Homo sapiens: one gene and its partner. The protein of the gene in region 1 interacts with the protein of each later gene in a biochemical or structural test. Each region holds a gene or a part of one and is shown on either strand. Other genes may lie near its edges. The genes, in order: MND1 and RAD51.

The links.
Region 2: the proteins of MND1 (region 1) and RAD51 interact in far-western blotting, tested with the Homo sapiens proteins (one study listed by BioGRID).

Annotation. Positions count from the first base shown.
Region 1 is NC_000004.12:153,400,150-153,403,971, reverse strand, and holds part of MND1 (meiotic nuclear division protein 1 homolog), read right to left. Parts: intron 1-3,822. UniProt on the Homo sapiens protein: Required for proper homologous chromosome pairing and efficient cross-over and intragenic recombination during meiosis.
Region 2 is NC_000015.10:40,715,362-40,719,183, reverse strand, and holds part of RAD51 (DNA repair protein RAD51 homolog 1), read right to left. Parts: intron 380-3,822; coding exon 285-379; intron 1-284.

The DNA of each region.
Region 1 (3,822 bases):
TAGCCTGAGTAACATGGTGAAATCCTGTCTCTACAAAAATTAGCTCAGCATGGTAGCATGTGCTTGTAGTTCCAGCTACTCAGGGGACTGAGGCAGGAGGATTGCTTGAGCCCAAGAGGTTGAGGCTGCACTGAGTCATGATCATGCCACTGCACTCCAGCTGAGGTGACAGAGTGAGAGTGTCTCAAAAAAAAAAGTAATAATTAATTTAAAAAATAATATAAGGCACTGTAATCCCAGCTACTTGGGAGGCTGAGGCACGAGAATCACTTGAACCCGGCCGGGAAGCAGAGGTTGTAGTGAGCCAAGATTGTGCCACTGCACTCCAGCTTGGGTTACAGAGCAAGATTCTGTCTCATAGCAACCCTAGAAAGCAGATTCTTCCCCCTCCCCAGGATTGTTGCTCGTAGAGTTGTTACAATTTGTTTAGTAACTTTCCTGAACTCAATCTGTAAAGTCCGTGTTCTTAAGTGTGGCCACTTAAGTCTCTACTTGGTTAGCTTAGTGGTCAAGCTATTAATTGAACAGAGATTTCCTTAAACACTTGGACTAAACCTCTATGAAGAGGTTCTCTTTTCCAAAGGGCTCAGCCGTCTTTGCTAAGAGGGTTTGCATGTGCTGCGACATGCGTTCTCAGCAAGGCAGTTTATAACTCTGACTTAGTCTTTGCTTCTTGCTTGCACAGAGTATCAAGGTCAGCTAGATGTGGGGACTGTCCCAGGTCTTCACTGAGAATGTGAACAACCCTAAGCATGCATGTAGGCCTTCTATATTTCCAGGAATATGTTGCTCTTCAAGGCTCTCATGAACATATCATTTAGTTTCTCCTTTTTTTTTTAGAAGGTTCTCACTCTGTCACCCAAGCTGGAGCAGAGTGGCACGATCATGGCTCACTGCAGTCTTGATCTCCTCGGCTCAAGTGATCCTCCCACCTCAGCCTCCTGAGTAGCTAGTACTACAGGCACATGCCACCATGCCTAATTTTTAAATTTTTTACATAGATGGAGTTTTGCCATTTTCTTCAGACTGGTTTTGAACTCTTGGGCTCAAGCAATCTTCCCAAAGTGTTAGGATTACAAGCATAAACCACTGCATCTGGCCCTTTTAAGCTTTTTGATTAGTCTACTGTTTGCCTCAACTGTTATTCATCAACAATGGTTAACTGAGAAGTTAAAATTATTGTTTATAATTGTTATAGACAAACACTCCCCACAGAGAGGATTTTAGCATTGGGCATACCCGAGGCCAGATCAAATAAAGACAGTTTTTCCTATTGGTGTCCTCCAGGGAACCACCAAACATGTAAATAATGACAATTCTTTGGGATCAAGGCTCTTACAGAGTTCCAGGGGCATTTTGTTCCTCTAGACAGTAGGAATGCAGGGTTGTTATCCTTCAAGGTCACTGCTGCGGTGAGACTGGGAAATGAGTATAGGCAAATTCAATACCACAAAGCTCATTATTCTTACTCAGAGTCTGCTAATTTTCCTCAGTAGGCTCCTGTAAGCCTTTGGTTAATTTCCAGAGTTCTGAAAAAGTTGACTACAACAATTTTTGCAAGTTTTCTGAAAGGGCAAAGTTTCAGAAGTCCTTACTCCACCTTTTTACTGTCATCCTGGCATTTATTTCTAAGAAAATTACTTAAGTACCTCTAAGATATTTTCAAGTATTTTTGTGGGAATTTAATTTCTACTAACATGTTTTATCTGGTCACATTTGAATAATGGTCAGAATAGCTAAATTAAAAAATTGTTTAAAGAATTGTTGCTTTTAAATATCACTTCTTTGATATTGCAATTAATGTTTGTTGTTGTTGTTTTGAGACTGTTTCGCTCTGTCACCCAGGATGGAGTGCAGTGCATGATGTTGGCTCATTGCAGCCTTCGCCTCCCCAGTTCAAGCGATTCTCCTGCCTCAGCGTCCAGAGTAGCTGGGATTACAGGTGTGTGTCACCATGCCTGGCTAATTGTTGTATTTTTAATAGAAACAGCATTTCACCAAGTTGGCCAGGCTGGTCTCAAACTCCTGACCCCTAGTGATCCGCCTGCCTCTGCCTCCAAAGCAATTAGTCTTCTAAATACTTGCTTAATGATATCAATAATTCAACTGGCATAATTAAATATATGTATTTCTCATGGGTGTTAGTGAGAAATAAGAAAATACATAGCCATGCCCCATATGAACAAATGGTTATGGCTACAGTCACCAAATTGTTCTCTGAATAAATCATGACAGACTTAGAGATAAGCCTGAGCAATATAATATGGGGGGCAATAGCCATGCTACTAAGAACCAAATCCTATTAAAATCAATTTGTGAAACTCATAAGCCTTTAATCCAGTATAATCTGTTCTGCGTTAACATGATAGCTGAAATCCCATGAAACCCCTATCAAAAAGTGCACTTTAAAAACAATAATTTCATTGAGGAATGGAGATTTGGGGTGAGTAGAGGTTAAAGTCTTAAGAAGTTCTCTAAAGTTAGTGATAAGGGGATCACTGGCATCTACTACTTAAATATTTAAATTTCTTGGATTTGTGGGTTTATACTTTTCATCAAATTTGAAAAACTTTAGCTTTTATTTCTTTAGATATTTTTCTGGCTCAGCAACCTCTCCTCCCACCAAAACATACTCCATTTGGGACTGTAATTACACATATATTAGGTCCCTTGAAGTTGTCTTAAGGCTCAGATGCCATTTTCATATTTTTAAAATTTTTATTTTATTTATATGGGAGTCAAGGACTCCATATGCTGTCCAGGCTGGTCTCGAACTCCTGGGCTCAAGTGATCCACTCACCTTGGCCTCCCAAAGTGCTGGAATTACAGGCGTGAGCCACTGCGCCTGGCCCCATTTTCATATTTTTTAAATTCTTTATTTTCTGTGTTTCATTTTGGATATTTCTATTGCTATATCTTCAACTAACATCAATTCTTTCTTCTGCAAAATTTAATCTGCTGGTAATTTACCATAGTGTATTTTTCATGTCAGACATTGTAGTTTTCATGTTCAAAAGTTTGACCTGGGTCTTTTTTATATCTTCTCTATTTCCACTTAACTTTTTGAACATATGGAATACAGTTATAATAACTTTTTAAATGTTCTGGTCTTCTGATCCTAATTTCTGGGTCAATTTTGACTGATGGAGTATTCTGCTCATTATAGATAATGTTTTCCCACTTCTCTCCAGGCCTGGTAGTCTTTGCTTGTATGCCAGACATAATGAATTTTATCTTGCTAGATGTTAATCCTTTTTCAAGAAACAGGGTCTCACTCGGTTGCCCAGGCTGGAGTATAGTGGCACGACCATAGCTCACTACAGCCTTGAACTACTGGGTGCAAGGAATCCTCCCATCTCAGCCTCTCAAGTAGAAAGGTAATAAAACTGGAGGAAGAAAACTTGAATAAAGCGCATGCCAGCATGACCAGCTAATTTTAAATTGTTTGTAGAGATAGGGTCTCACTCTCTTGCCCAGGCTAATCTCAAACTCCTAGCCTAAAGCTATCTTCCTGCCTTGGCCTCCCAAAGTGCTGGGATTACAGGCATGAGCCACTGTGCCTGCAAAAAAGATGATAATCTTTAATAAATTTTTTAAAATGCACAAAGCCAGGAAGGAAGGATTCTTACTCTCTCATTCCCAAGTAAAAAATTAATATATCTCTAATAGACTCCATTACAAGTTCTCCAGGATCCATCTTTACATGGTTGCATAAATAACTATTAAAAGATAACCTAGTCTGATGGTGATGAAAAATGATAAAGGCCAAACATGGTGAATCACACCTGTAATCCCAGAACTTTGGGAGGCCAAGGGGAGAGA
Region 2 (3,822 bases), on another chromosome or scaffold:
AGGAAGGCTGAGGTGGGAGAGTTGCTTGAACCCGGGAGGCAGAGGTTGCAGTGACCTGAGATCACGCCACCGCACTCTAGCCTGGGTGACAAGAGCGAGACTCCATCTGAAGAAAAAAAAAAAAAAGAATGCCTTTTTCTACTAAGGAAGTCATTCTTTTGAACCACACATACAACTTTGGGACGTGGGGTTATAGAAGAGACATTCTTCGGCCAAACTAACCCTGGCAATCACTACATTGATAAGTGTAGCCATAGTCTCTCTTATCTAAACCAGTAACCTACCTCTCAGCCACTGCCAGCAGCCGTTCTGGCCTAAAGGTACCCTCAGTGTCAATGTACATGGCCTTTCCTTCACCTCCACCCCGGTCAATGGGAAGCTATAGAGAACAAAAACAACAGTAGAAATGAACATTGTATTTCTGATACAGCTGACCAAGCTCCTCATGACATCTTTATAATTCCTCCAAGGCAAAGGGAAAAAAACATTTAAAAATGACAGTGGTAGGAAGGAGGCATTCCCTTCTGATATTAATAGAAATACAGCTAGAAAAATATGTAAAGCTGATTGTGTCTCAGTACATACAGCTAGTCCTGTCAGAACTGGACTGCTTAGAAATATAGCCCAAAGTAGGTAATAAAATTCTTTTCTTCTTTTTTTTTTTTTTCTTGCGATAGTCTCACTGTTGCCCAGGCTGGAGTGCAGTGGCGTTATCTCGGTTCACTGCAACCTCCACCTCCTGGGTTCAAGCAACTCTCCTGCCTCAGCCTCCTGAGTTGTTGAGATTAAAGGTCCATGCCACCACGCCCAGCTAATTTTTGTATTTTTAGTAGAAACAGGGTTTCACCAAGTTGGCTAGGCTGGTCTTGAACTCCTGACCTCAGGTGATCTGCCTGCCTTGGCCTCCCAAAGTGTTGGGATTATAGGCACGAGCCACTGCACCTGGCCTTTTTTTGTTTTGGAGACAGGGTCTCACTCCGCCGCCCAGGCTGGAGTGCAGTGGTGCAATCTTGGCTCACTGCAACCTCTGCCTTCCGGGCTCTGGAGATCCTCCCATCTCACCTCCCAAATAGCTGAGACCATAGGTGTGCACCACCACACCCGATTAAATTTTTTTATAGATAGGGTTTTGCCACATTGCCCAGGCTGGTCTTGAACTCCTGGACTCAAGTGATCTGCCCGCCTCGGCCTCTTAAAGTGCTGGGATTACAGGCGTGAGCCACCACACCTGGCCAGTAATAAAATTCTAGAACTGCATACCAACACAAGACTGATCAATTCAAAAGTACAGAAACTTGGAAGACCATTTACCTTAGCTTTAATCAATAATGGGCCATGATCCAAAGCCCAGTTAATTTTAGCATGTCTATATCAAACTTATACTTCACTTTATTGAGCAGTTCATTCTTTAGGGGTACTAAAGGGACTAGTCAATGCCCTCGGAGTGTCTATAGCAAATTTCGAGTGTGAGCAAGAAAGAAGAAAAAAACATATTTACTCCAATAGTATAAACAAGATGTTTAAAATGAACAATTGGAGAAAACAGAAAAATAAGTAGAAAGAATTTTAAAGAGAAAACAAAAAGGAAAGAAAAGAGAAGTAAATGAAATGCCATGAAAACTGTCTTATGAGCCACTCAAGGAAATCTCTGCTTTAGACTACCCATTCCATACCAGATACCTTTGAATTTTTCTACAAAGTTTAAGTGAATGATGCTAAAGGGTAATTTCTACTCTAGAAATCTACTTTGGAGTCATAATTCCCATTTAAATTATGAGGAAAATCCTTTAGAACATTTTATGTTAAAGGCCTAGGAGAACCAAATTTTTTCTTTCTTTTTTTTCTGAGACGGAGTTTCGCTCTTGTTGCCCAGGCTGGAGTGCAATGGCATGATCTTGCCTCACCACAACCTCTGCCTCCCGGGTTCAAGGGATTCTCCTCCCTCAGCCTCCCAAGTAGCTGGGATTTCAGGCATGCACCACCACGCCCGGCTAATTTTGCATTTTTTAGTAAAAATGGGGTTTCTCCACGTTGGTCAGGCTGGTCTTTAACTCCTGACCTAAGGTGATTCACCCACCTTGGCCTCCCAAAGTGCTGGGAGGCGTGAGCCACTGCACCCAGCCCAAATTTTCTTTCTTATCTTTGAGAATTTTTTTTTGAAATTACAAAACAACTATATGCTTATATTAAAAATCTAAACAATATAAAAGTAGAGGGCCGGAGGCCAGGCGCAGTGGCTAACGCCTGTAATCCCAGCACTTTGGGAGGCCGAAGCAGGTGGATCACCTGAGGTCAGGAGACCGAGACCATCCTGGCTAACATGGTAAAACCTTGTCTCTACTAAAAATACAAAAAATTAGCCGGGCGTGGTGGCGGCCACCTGTAGTCCCAACTACTTGGGAGGCTGAGGCAGGAGAATGGCGTGAACCTGGGAGGCAGAGCTTGCAGTGAGCCGAGATCGTGCCACTACACTCCAGCCTGGGTGACAGAGCGAGATTCCATCTCAAAAAAAAAAAAAAAAAAAAAGAAGTAGAGAGGCCAGGCATGGGGGCTCACACCTGTAATCCCAGCGAGTGGATCACCTGAGGTCAGGAGTTCGAGACCAGCCTGGCCAAAATGGTGAAACCCTGTCTCTACTAAAAATACAAAAATTAGTGGGGCGTGGTGGTGCACACCTGTAATCCCAGCTACTCGGGAGGCTGGGGCACAAGAATCACTTGAACCTGGGAGGCGGAGGGTGCAGTGAGCGATATCATGCCACTGCACTCCAGTTTGGGTGACAGAGTGAGACTTTGTCTAAAAAAAAAAAGAGGAAGTGGCGGAGAAAAAACTGAAAGCTCTTCACCACTCTCCATCTCCCAGAAATAATTTCCCAGATTATTTTCTATGCATTTTCATATACTTCTTTTATATAAGTGGTTCTTCCACTTACTATGTGACTGAGAATATTGTTTCCTTTTCTGTAAAATGTAAATAAAACCGACCTTATGGGATTGTTTTAAAAACTAAATAAAATAATTCATGTAAAGCGTTTAGCACGGTACACTCTGAAGACATGATTTTCCCAACCTTTAGGGCACTGACTTTAGTGTATACAGTTACGGAAGGCTTTGTTAATTTGGAAGGGAAAAATTACGTTACTATTTGGCAGATAAAATCTCTCACATCATGGGAATCCATGGAAGGAGCAAAGGACACATATACAACAAAAGAGGGTCATGCCTAAAGAAAGACTTGGAACCAGTGGCCAAGAGGACAGAGAGCAGAATCTGCCTCAGTTTCTTGGAGAGGAGGAAATATTAACACTCTGGGGACTAAGTCCCCAGGAAATAAGATGAACGAAGTTCTCCTTTCTCCTACCTCCAGGTAATATTAAGTGCTAACATGACAGGGGATTCTTTTCCAATTGAATAGACTTCCTTGGCAAAGGAAAGGCCACAGATGATTGGGAATAGGTAGGTAGACTGACAACAGGATAGTGGACAAGCTCCCAGGGTAAGATCATGGGGATGGATTGCATGCTCTGTTCTCCAGCTTATTTGGCCCTTTCTACCTTGCCCTCCCAGTGCCATCATAGCCATCTTCTGTTACTGGATTGGGATACCATCAGGTTAGCTCTTCTTAATAACTGCTTAGGAGCATAATTTAACACTTCTCATTTTATAGTGATGCAGTATGTTTCTAACTTTTACCATTTTAATTATGCTTTGGTATAAATTATTTGTACATTTATCTTTGCATATATGTGAAATGTTCTGTAAGACAAATTTTCTGTCAAAGGGTATGTGATTTTTTTGTTTTGTGGTTTTTTGGTTTTTGGTT